Regions from separate parts of the Homo sapiens genome. Here all the other regions are linked to region 1. Evidence: fine-mapped expression QTL. A gene starts in region 1. Each other region holds a variant in brackets. All regions are shown on one strand. Distances are from middle to middle.

Region 1 (2,500 bases):
ACTCTCCGTTACAGTGATGTCTAGGTTGCCCAAGAAGAGCGTCCGGTTAGCTCGCTGATCATCCTCGGGTGAAATCTCATCCACTTCTCTGAAAGGAGCAGCACCTGCTCCAGCTCCCACCCTTGGCTCAAGACTGTATGCAGGGCGCACTCTCTCATAGAACGGGTAGTCTCTTTCTCTCTCCAGGTCTCGAGGCAATGGTGGCGGAGGTGGAGGGGGCAGGCGGCCAAGAGCCAACTGCTGCAGCCGGTAGTCTCTGTATCCCAAAGCAGCGCCACCAGGGGAAAGTGATCTCTGGCCTCCACCACCTCCAGGGGGGTGCCGGTGACCACCTACAGAGGCCCCGACCACACTGGCTGATGGAGGATAAGTATCTTTGTCTAAAGGGGAGCGGCTGCGGCGCCGGCTCACATACACAGCTTCTATCTTCAGAGGCCGGTCATAGAGCACCAGGCGGCCTCTGGCATGCTTGGCCGCCCGCGCGTCCTCTGGCCGCCGGAAGTTCACAAAGGCTACCCGCTCATCCCCGCTGCCAGAACCCGACAGATGACTGATTTTCACACTTACATCACCGAAGCGTTTGAACTCATGAAACAGGCCGTCCTCCACCGCTTCGTCACTAAGCTGGGACCCCAACTCGCTTATCTTCAGAGTCTTGTATTCCGCGCCGTCCCCGCCGCCGGGAGCTGAGGAGGCGGCCCCAGAGGAACGTGACTCCCCGCCTCCACCCCGGGAGCTGCTGCGCGATTCGCCCCCGCCCGAAGAATTTTTGGTGCTCGGGGAGCTATAACTATGCAAGCGGCTACTGGAGCTGCCCCCACCGGTATCATACTCGCGGCTGCCACCTCGACTGCTGGACTTGTCCAGGTGGAGACTCCGCCGCGACCCACCGCCGCTATCGGTCTTTCCGCTGCTGCTCCCATTGCTGCCACCAGAGCCCCCTAACTTCTTGCTCCGCTCACCGCGGGAAGTCGAGTCCTCACCACCACGGGAGCGTTTGGCCTTCACTGGCGAGCGCTCTTTTCCCTTCATTGTTGCGGGTCGTCGGAGGTCGTCTCCGCGGAGCTGAGTAACCCGCCGCCCCGCGCTCGTTTCACACAGCGGAACCGCACGCCGCCATCTTGGACTCCGCCGCGGCACAGGGTCCCGCCCCGCAGTCCTCATTGGCCAATTGCTCTCTCTTCTACAGTCTCATTGGGAAAATTATTTGTCTATCTTTACATCTCCCCGCGCTCCAGGAAGGCGCCCGCCCAACCACTGTTATTGGGTTCCCAACCCCCTAGTCGGAGTACCTCATTGGTTACATTTGTTGTCTATCTTAACGGTTCCTCGCGCCAGACTGTAGCTCCGCCCCTCGCACTCTGCGGTCACGTGACCCAAAGTGTTGAGGTGTTGATTGGACAAAAAGTCTGCCCTGTAACGGTACTTCTTGCTCAGTGACAGCAGCAACCCACCTCCTTATCCCTTTCATTGGCTTATAAACCCGTCCTTTAAACCACTATTTGGGAGGTCGGGCCATCAGTTTCGGCGTTTTTTCCAGAGAGGCAGGCTCACAGCGATATCGCGAGAGACGGTAAGCTCCCTCTTTCGACCCCCTTTTTCCAACTCCTCCGGCGGCTAAAAGAAGTTTAAATCTGATTGGATGTCGGCAAGGAAGTTGATAGGCTGAAATAACTGTCCATCACTCGCTTAAAGGGGTAGGCCTGTATAACGGAGGAGGCTGACTGAAGGTGAAAGACTAGAACACGTGCTTGCTGTGCGACGTCACTTAGATGTCGCGAGAGGGTGACTGTGCGCCAGCCCCGCCTCCCCGCGTTTTCGGCGTTCTCCCCACAAACATTTGTTAAGTTCCGTGGGGTGTTTGGCTGTGCTTCGGCCCTTGGAGTTCGAAACTTCTGAGCTCCCCGCCGTCGTACCTGTGCCGGCCAAGGGGCGGGGCAGGCTTTCCGGCTGTCGGGGCCCTCCAGTCCCTCAGGAAGCCGTCCTGGGACGCCTAGCGGACACCATTTTACGTCGCTGTGGTAGCTGAGTGAACAGCCGGGGGGAGCCCCGCCCCCCGCGCGCGGGAGAGCGCCGCCCGCGGTCACCTGGGCCCGCGGGGCAGAGAGTTCACGGTTCCTGCAGCCTCGGGTCATGCTGACGCCCCCGGGCGGTGCTAACACGTAACACGCGGGACCTCGAGAGCTAAGAAGCAGGGCGACTAAGACGCAGCCCTCGCCCAGGAGCCCGTCTCTCCCGCGAGCTACCCGTTCCCGCCCAAGTACTCCGGGTAACCGAGGGGAGTGACCGTCGCTCCCCGCCTCGTGGCCCGCGGGCGGAGCCGGAACTGTCGGGACACCGCGGACGTGTCTTTGGGCGGCATGTTTTATGTTGCGAATCTGTGTGGATTTTTAAATTCTGTATTCCCCTAAAATAGCAGTGTTTTTAATATGTAATGCTTCTACCCTGAAAATCACCAAGCGAAATTTAGGCTCCATGCAGATATGTCACTTGTTTTTCC
Region 2 (2,745 bases), 64 kb after region 1:
ACATTATCACCCCTATCAAGTAAGCCTAAGTCCCTGTGATTATTGGAATGGTGAAAACAGATGGCTAAATTTAGATTTCAGCGGGATGTGGGGTGGAAGGTAATGCTGAAAGCAGAGGCTTCAGAAGACAGTTTATATGTCCTTTGCAATTTGGTAAAATCTGAGTCTCTGATAATGAAAAATGTGTGGGTGGTATTGGTATATACATATGACCCGGCTCTCAGCACTGTTGAGAACTTCTGGGGGCAACTGTCTGTTATCAACTCACTTTTGCAGTCTTCCCCTTGGAGGTCCATGTTTGTCAGTCTTTAGTTTGTTTTTGGCTTGGTGACATGATAACACTATTCCTGCATGAGATACTAAGCTCCTGGGGCTGTTCTAAGATGTGTTGAATACAAAATGTCCTGCTCTCTCTGCCTGAAGATGATGCTCTTGCATTTAGATGCCCTATAGGACTAACACATGCCAATGAGCCTCCTAAGAGATTGATGGTAAATCAGAATTGTCATGAGAAATAGAACCCAAACAGGCTGGACTGGATGGTCCTGAGGCAGAATGTGGGGCACAGGAGGTTGGTTTATGCTTTTGATGGTCAATATATTATGCCATGGGAGCTAGGTACCTATGTCTTCACTCCAGAAAAAGTCCTGCCAAGAAGTCCAGGTACCCATGAGGACTAGGCAGGGCTCCCTCTCCTTCTGAAAAAGCTGCAGACACTGAAATTCTCTTTCTCTCTCTGGTCCTGGTGTCCTGTTTGCCTGAACACCATGAAAACCCAGCTATTTCTATTAACCCATTCTTCACGTATAAAGGTCACAGAACACTAAGGTCCTTTTTTTTTTTTTTTTTTTTTTTGTATAAATTGAAAGGATATAAGTGCAGCTTTTTTTACATGGATATATTATATAGTGGTGAAGTCTGGGCTTTTAGTGTAACCTTCACCTGAATAATGTACATTGTACCCATTAAGCAATTTCTCATCCCTCACTCCACTCCCACACTCCCACCCTTCAGAGTCTTCAGTGTCTATCATTCCACACTCTGTGTCCAGCTGTACACATTATTTAGCTCTCACTTATAAGAGAACATATGGTATTTGAATTTGTTTCTGAGTTTTTTTCACTTAAGATAATGGTCTCTAGTACCATCCATTTTGTTGAAAAATACATGATTTCATTCTTCTTTTTTTTTTTTTTTTTT[G/TTG]AGGCGGAGTCTCTTTTCACCCAGGCTGGAGTGCAGTGGCGTGATCTCAGCTCACTGCAACCTCCACCTCCCGGGTCCAAGTGATTCTCCTGTGTCAGCCTCCTGAGTAGTTGGGACTAGAGGCGTGTGCCACCATGCCTGGCTAATTTTTTGTATTTTTAGTAGAGACGGGGTTTCACTGTGTTAGCCAGAATGGTCTCGATCTCCTGACCTCATGATCCACCCGCCTCGGCCTCCCAAAGTGCTGGGATTACAGGGACATCCAGCTGATTTCATTCTTTTTTAAGTGGCTGAATAGTATTCCGTGGTATATACATATCACATTTTCTTTATCCAGTCCTCCATTGATGGACACTCAGGTTGATTCCCTATTTTTGCTATTGTGATAAACATACAAATGCAAGTATCTTTTTTATATAATGATTTCTTCTCCTTTGGGTAGATAACCAGTAGTAGAAGTGCTGGATCAAATGGTAGTTCTATTTTTAGTTCTTTGAGAAATAGCCATACTGTTTTCCATAGAGGTTGTACTAATTTGCATTCCCACCAATAGTGTATAAGCATTCCTTGTTCTCTGCATCCTCACCAACATCTATTTTTTTGACTTTTTAATAATAACTATTCTGATTAGTATAAGATGATACTTCATTGTGGTTTTGATTTGCATTAAAACCTGATGATTAGTGATGTTGACCATTTTTTTCCTATGCTTCTTGGCCATTTGTATGTCTTCTTTTGAAAATGTCTATTCATTTCCTTTGCCCACTTTTTAATGGGGTTATTTGTTTTTTGCTTTTGTTGTTGTTTGAGTTCCTTGTAAATTCTGGACATCAGTATCCTACTAGATGCATAGTTTGCAAATATTTTCTTCCATTCTGCATGTTGTCTGTTCACTCTGTTGATTATTTCTTTTGCTGCGCAGAAACATTTCAGTTAAGTTCTAGTTGTCTATTTTTGTTTTTATTGCTTGTGCTTTTGAGGTCTTAGTCATGAATTCTTCGCCTAGACCAATGTCCAGAAGAGTTTGCCCTAGGTTTTCTTCTAGTATTTTTGTAGTTTCAGGCCTTACATTTAAGTATTTATCCATCTTGAATTGATTTTTGTATATGGTGAGGGACAGGGGTCCAGTTTTATTCTTCTGCATATAGCAATCCAATTTCCCCAGCACCATTTATTGAAAAGGGTATCCTTTCCCTCGTGTATATTTTTGTTGACATTTTCAAAGATCAGTTGGCTGTAGGTATGTGGCTTTATTTCTGGGTTTTTAAATTCTGTTCTATTGATCTTTGTGTCTATTTTTATGATCATGCCATGCTGTTTTGTTTGCTATAGCCCAGTAGTATAATTTGAGGTCAGATAATGTAATGGCTCCAGCTTTGCTATTTTTGCTTAGGATTGCTTTGGCTATTTGGGCTCTTTTTAGGTCTCATATGAATTTTAGGCTTGTTTTTTCTAATTCTGTGAAAAATGACAATGGCATTTTGATAAGGATTGCACTGAATCTGTAGATTGCTTTGGGCAGTATGGTCATTTTAACAATATTAA
Region 3 (2,745 bases), 32 kb after region 1:
CTCCTGTAGGGAGATTCCCATCTCTCATGCTAGGCCACTCCCTCTCCTAAGCGCTCAGAAACTGTGCTTATGTTTAACCCTTAGGCTTTCCATGTAGTGTTATACATACGTATGCATGTCTCCTACCCTAGGCGATGCTCTTTGAGGGCATAGACAGAATCTTATTTTCTTTCTGTTTCCTCCCCACATAACTATTACCCACAGCACTTTGTATGCAGTAGACTTTTCATAAATATCTGCTGACTTGGAGTGTGTGTGAGGCAGGGTGAACAGGGAGCATGAGAGAGCTGGATTGGAATTCCTCCTCCCACGGACTGTGGCTCTGGGCAAATTACTCAACCTCTGTGGTTCTCCCTCAGTTTCCTCACTCTAAAAGGGGGTGATAGCATTTGCTGTCAAGGGGTTATTATGAGGAAATGAAGTGAAAAAATGCAGGCAAAGCATTTACATAGTGCCTGGCACATATTCCACACTCCATCAGTGATATGTATTCTAGTAGCTGCAGGGTGGTGCCTGGACAAGGTGGATGGTCATAATGAGGAAGGAAAGAGCCCCAGGAGGCATGAGAAACAAGGGCCTACTAAAGACCACACTTCCAAGGGGATGGAACAGAGATAGATAAAAAGGAAGGAGATATTTTAAGGAAAGCTCAGTAAAATGGAGAGGAGCCAACAAAATGAATGTGAGGCTGCTGGGATAAGGGGGAAAGGAACTGATTAGAAGCAAGAGAAGCCTGGAGCCATGCCCCAGAGACTCTATCCAGGATGAAAGGAGGGGCCTGGAGAAGAGGTAGATGTGCCCAGCCAAAAAGAGAAAAGGGCCAGGAGTGGGGAGGGGGTGACTGGGAAGATGACATTACAAACTAAGGTGGCTGTGGAAGGAGCAGTATCTGCCTGGATCCAAAAAGAGGATCTGAAAGCCAAAAAGGATGAATAATCCAGGCATCGGGCTCAAGGCAGGAGGCAGCTGTTCATTTGTGGCTTGATGAGCACTTGACTAAGGTAGTTTAAGAAACTACTTCTAACGCAGTTTAGACTCGCTGGAGCATGTGCCTCACCGAAGACCCCACCCAGCAGGCATCACAGAGTAGTGGAAGCGGAAGGACCCCCAGACCCATGGACACAGTCTGAGGAGACTACCGCCCCTTTCATCCCTAGGGTGGGACAGCGGGAAATTGCCAGAGACAGTCCGAGGAAGGCCTTCTGTCCTGTGCCTCTTTGGTAAATCAAGCAGCGTCTTTCTGTGCATCAAATCTAGTCTCTGAAACTTGAATCCAAATTTGCTGACACAGGGGCTTCTATCTGCAAGAGGTATGCAGGGATGGCCAAGGT[C/T]AGGGGCTCCTTTGACCACTTAGAATCAGATCTGGTCTCAGCTGGAGTCCTTGGTCCCTCCTCTGACCATCACTTGGCCCCATTCTCCACAGCGAGAGGAAGAAGCTTGCCAAGTGGCAAGAGTCAAGTCATCGGCCTGCAGGGAAAGAAATGTTCTTTCTGGCCTCAGGATCTGAGCAAGATTGTCCAAAGCAATTTGCAGACTAACTTGAAAGGCGACATGGACAGGAAGGTGTCTGGGGAAGCAGAAGGCCCCTCATCCACAGATCCTTGAGGCAGACATGCCCTGCCTGTTAACTAGAAATAGTACCAGGCCAGGAGCCCAGAGGAGCACCCCCAACCAGATGTGATGACAGCCTGTGCACATATATGTATACATGTGAGTGCGCCTTGTCTCCTGGCTCCTTTCACTCCAGGGCAGGTACGGGTTGGTAGCATGGGCTTGTGCTCTACTCAGTTATTCAGGGACCTGGGTGGCCATGGTTTTGCCGTCTCCAACCAAGGCTGCCCTGGGATTTGGTGTCCAGTGGATGCAGAAAGAAAGAACATTGAGACCACACTGGGATGTTTTTACAGTCAGGTCTGAAAGTGGCACACATCACCTCACACTCCACTGACCAAAACTCATTCCCAAGAACACAGCTAACCTGCAAGGCAGCCTGGGAAATGAAGCCTAGCCATATGCCAGAGAAGGTGAGATGGATTTGGTGATCAATCAGCAATCTCTGTCACATGCCTAAAAGCACAGAGGACATTTTGCGATAGAGGATTGGGAAGAAGCACCTGAGAACGGAACAGATGGAAAAGACACGGGGAGCTTGGACAACATCCCAATGCTACCATGGGGTAGCATTAGTAGGCACCCATCTCCTCACCTTAGGAGCATGGTGTCCTGCAGGGAAGACATGCTAGGAGTATTTGACTTGGAGGCTCAAAGAACTGGGAAGCTCTTGGCCAAGGGGAAGGGTGTTCTCAAGGTCTAGAGGACCCTCTGAAGAGAGGCCTGGTAACCTAGGGCCAGCTCTGGGCTCAGATGAGGCAGGTTCAGGCAACCTTAGGTCCAGCCCAAGTCACCAGGGGAGAAAAAAGGCAGAGGCCCAGAACTTACACTCCACACTGCAATGCTCCCTGTGCAATTCTCCTGTGCTCCACTTTTGTGGAAGGGGGCCAGGAAGCCAAGGTCTAGGAGGAGGAGCTAACCGAGAGGTCAGCAGGCAAGGAATATCACTGCCTGCAAAGGTCTGGCCACAATGGAGCAGGGAACCCCAGGCATGTGAGGAGGAGGAGCGCAGAGAAAGAAAGGAGGAAGGGCTATACATGAGAAAAGGGAAATGGAGACAGAAAAGCCTATTTTGTACATGGTGTAAGAGGTGAGTCTTGATTTTAGTGTTGATCTTACTTTGGAGTGCCACAG
Region 4 (2,745 bases), 68 kb after region 1:
CACTCTGTAGCTCTAACTAGATGCCCTCTTTCAGCTCCTGGGTCCATTTTTCTCCAGGAAACATTATATGCAGTTACAGAGGTGAAGCTTTCCTCCTTCCTCTCCTTGCTCAGCTTCTTAATGGTCTTTCATTCTGCCAAGGCCAATTGTCAGGGGAACTGCGGAGATTTACATAGACACCACAACCAACTCCAGGACTATCCCTTGGAGACTTGGGAGTGAGCATTTTTATAATACAAGGAAATCAGATTACATTTAGATAAATGAATTTTAGGATGAATTTACTGCATGCAAAGGACAGAAAAGCAAACCAAAATGAACAAGGTAGTCATTGTAAGGTTCTAAGACAGCTCATGGAAATAAAGTGCAGCCAGTATCATTTTGAAAATTGCATCTGGGAAATCTGAACTGTTAGGGCTCAAGGTATCCTCTCTCTGTCTCTCTCTCCCCAACCCCTCTTTTTCTCTTTTCCTCTCTCACCCTAACTGTAAGATACCTATTCACTTTCCCACACCTCCAATCATGGATTATTATGAATGAGATGTCATGATTATGAGTGGCTAAGTCTTCTGTCTCCTCAAGAAAACAGCACTATTGTGTGACTACAGCATCCTATGGAAAATTTCAATCTTATTATAACCTTAAGAGCTCTGGTTTCATAGCCATCCAAGCCCTCTTTGAAATGACTTATAGTCCCTCTCTTTGATTCTCTTTCTCTGGGGCCTCTATGGTGTCTCTATGGTCTCATCTGTTCATACATTTGGGCCATTTTTCTCTCTGCAGCTTGTTCAAGAAGCATCTCTGCCTCTTAATGACTTCAGCCTGTTTACAGCATTGATTGTAGGTAAAGTTCCCAACCCTCAGTAACCTTTGAGCTCTGATTGCATTCTGGCTGTGCAACACATACTTGAAATTCTCAAGAGGGTGAATCTGATTGGCTGCTGACCAGCCAATAGATTGTTCAACATTGAGACAGGATCTGATTCTGGTCCAACCAGCTGTAGCTGGATGGTCACATAGAACACATAAGGCAGTCCAGCTGGTCCCTTCAGTAGGGCTTACAATCCAAGACAGATCACAGAAGAAGATGGAGTGGGCCAGGTACCCCAGAACAAAATTACTATGTTAGATCAGTTTCGAGGTCATCAGAGGTCCACAACTTTAGGGAAAATTGTGGCGGGAAGGGGGGATCTGTCCATCATGGTGTGGACAATTTAGAGGAATATGGGGTAATTATGGGTGAGTGTGTGTTATAACCTAAGTGAGTCTTAGCCTTTCATGTGTGAACGGAGCCTCCTCCTCCTCCTCTTTCAGATGCTTTTCAGAGTCACTGTACAGTTGGCAGCAAGAGGGAAGATTCCCAAAGCATGCGATGGGGACAGTCTCCTCCCCAACCTCACACCTCAACCCCCTTCTTCCCCACCCTGCAATAGAAACAGCCCCCACATGATTGTTTGCTTCCTAGCAAAACTGGACCTAAATGTTTCCAGAGGCAGCTAGCCCACTTTTTGTTGGAATGGCCTTCTAAAGAATGAGAAAGTTGTCTGCTGGCACTGAACTCACAAGCTTAAGCCCCTGTAATCAGAGGCTACACAAGTGCAGGTATTTGGGATAGGAAT[A/G]AACCAGTCCAAACAGATCTGGGTTCACATGAGTCTTGCTTCCCATACTTAGCTTTTTGCTCTTTAAGAGAAATTTTCTAGACTAGATTTTTCTAATGAGCTGCCAGGATTCAAAACTACTCTCAAGAGTCCAGAGACTTGGGTTCCAGTTTTAGCTCTACTACTAACTAGCAATGTAACTGTGGGCTATCCCTTCCCCACCCTAAGCTTCAGATCTCTCCCCTGTATAAAGAGGGAATTTGGAGTAGATGATCTTTAGTGCTCTTTTCTTCTTGACCTTCTGTTATCCAGCTTTCACCCAACCACACCATCAGTGCTCAGCTATACTCACCTCCAGGAATATGCCCTGAACTCTCACAACCTTCCCACCTCTGAAGGTTTAACCTCTCTTTTCTCTTTGCTCAGTTTCTCCAGGGTCTGAGTGGCATCTAGCCCTTGCCAGTTCACACAAGGAGAATTGCATGCCTTTGACTCTGGAGAGTCATTCCTTGTTTGTTTGTTTTCTATTTCTACCCTCTCCAGAACTGTCATCCTCAGGATCCTTCCATTGGCTTCCAAGCCTTCCTGAAAAGATCTTTCAAGAGGGTTCCATTCAGCCCCCCAGGGTCTAAATCTACTGAAGAGCTGATCTTCCACATCAATAGACTCCTCCAATGTCCTGGAATGTGTACCTCTGAATTGAGGCCACCGCAGAGCCAGTCTGCAGGGGCTGAAAAATGCAATGCAACTGAGGGTAGGCCAGGCATCCTGTGTTCAGACCTCAGGCCCTGATAGGCTGCTCACCTCTGATGCAGTGTGGTTGGGTGAGAAGAGCCAGGCCCACTTTGGAGGCAATCCCTTCCCACCTTTGTAGCCTTGTTTCCCTTGCACATACTGCTTCTATTTATCTTCCTCACAACCAGCTCCCTTGCACCTGTTTGTTCCTTTCTTGAAGGTCATTCGCTCAGCCTCCTGGTTTGTGCTCACACCCTCCAGTCAGCAGCTTATCTCCCTAAAGAAGTTCAGTAGACACATATGGGGACAACTTGTAAGACTCGCAGTGCCTATGTGGACAGGGTCATCAGGCTGCCTCTAAGTCCACCCTGAGATTATTAGTATAGCCTCATCCAACTCCTTAGCTTTGGTT

The links. PIP is the estimated chance that this variant, and not a neighbour inherited with it, causes the effect. A credible set is the group of variants that fine-mapping cannot tell apart.
Region 2: its variant is the best candidate, but not a certain one, in a credible set for the expression of RBM15-AS1 in whole blood (INTERVAL, PIP 0.62).
Region 3: its variant is the best candidate, but not a certain one, in a credible set for the expression of RBM15-AS1 in lung (TOPMed, PIP 0.87).
Region 4: its variant is the best candidate, but not a certain one, in a credible set for the expression of RBM15-AS1 in whole blood (INTERVAL, PIP 0.76).

The regions. Positions count from the first base shown.
Region 1 is chr1:110,338,070-110,340,569 of GRCh38, reverse strand. RBM15-AS1 (RBM15 antisense RNA 1) reads left to right here and starts at 1,399. Exons shown (of 4, transcript NR_036595.1): 1 at 1,399-1,573. RBM15 (RNA binding motif protein 15) reads right to left here and starts at 1,193. Exons shown (of 3, transcript NM_022768.5): 1 at 1-1,193. The coding sequence starts at 1,164. It overlaps LOC124904276, which reads right to left. Exons shown (of 1, transcript XM_047437983.1): 1 at 1,567-2,500. The coding sequence starts at 2,135. The coding sequence ends at 1,629. RefSeq lists enhancers at 205-654, 26-764, 735-854, 885-1,184, 2,325-2,500 and a silencer at 1,955-2,224.
Region 2 is chr1:110,274,410-110,277,154 of GRCh38, reverse strand. It overlaps a transcript of KCNC4 not described here. Among named protein-coding and RNA genes, the nearest start is that of RBM15-AS1, 63 kb to the left of the region's middle. The variant G/TTG (reference allele first, on the strand shown) is at 1,201.
Region 3 is chr1:110,305,980-110,308,724 of GRCh38, reverse strand. All of the region lies in intron 2 of RBM15-AS1 (RBM15 antisense RNA 1), which reads left to right. Among named protein-coding and RNA genes, the nearest start is that of RBM15-AS1, 32 kb to the left of the region's middle. The variant C/T (reference allele first, on the strand shown) is at 1,332.
Region 4 is chr1:110,270,428-110,273,172 of GRCh38, reverse strand. It overlaps a transcript of KCNC4 not described here and the pseudogene LOC124900436. Among named protein-coding and RNA genes, the nearest start is that of KCNC4, 61 kb to the right of the region's middle. The variant A/G (reference allele first, on the strand shown) is at 1,620.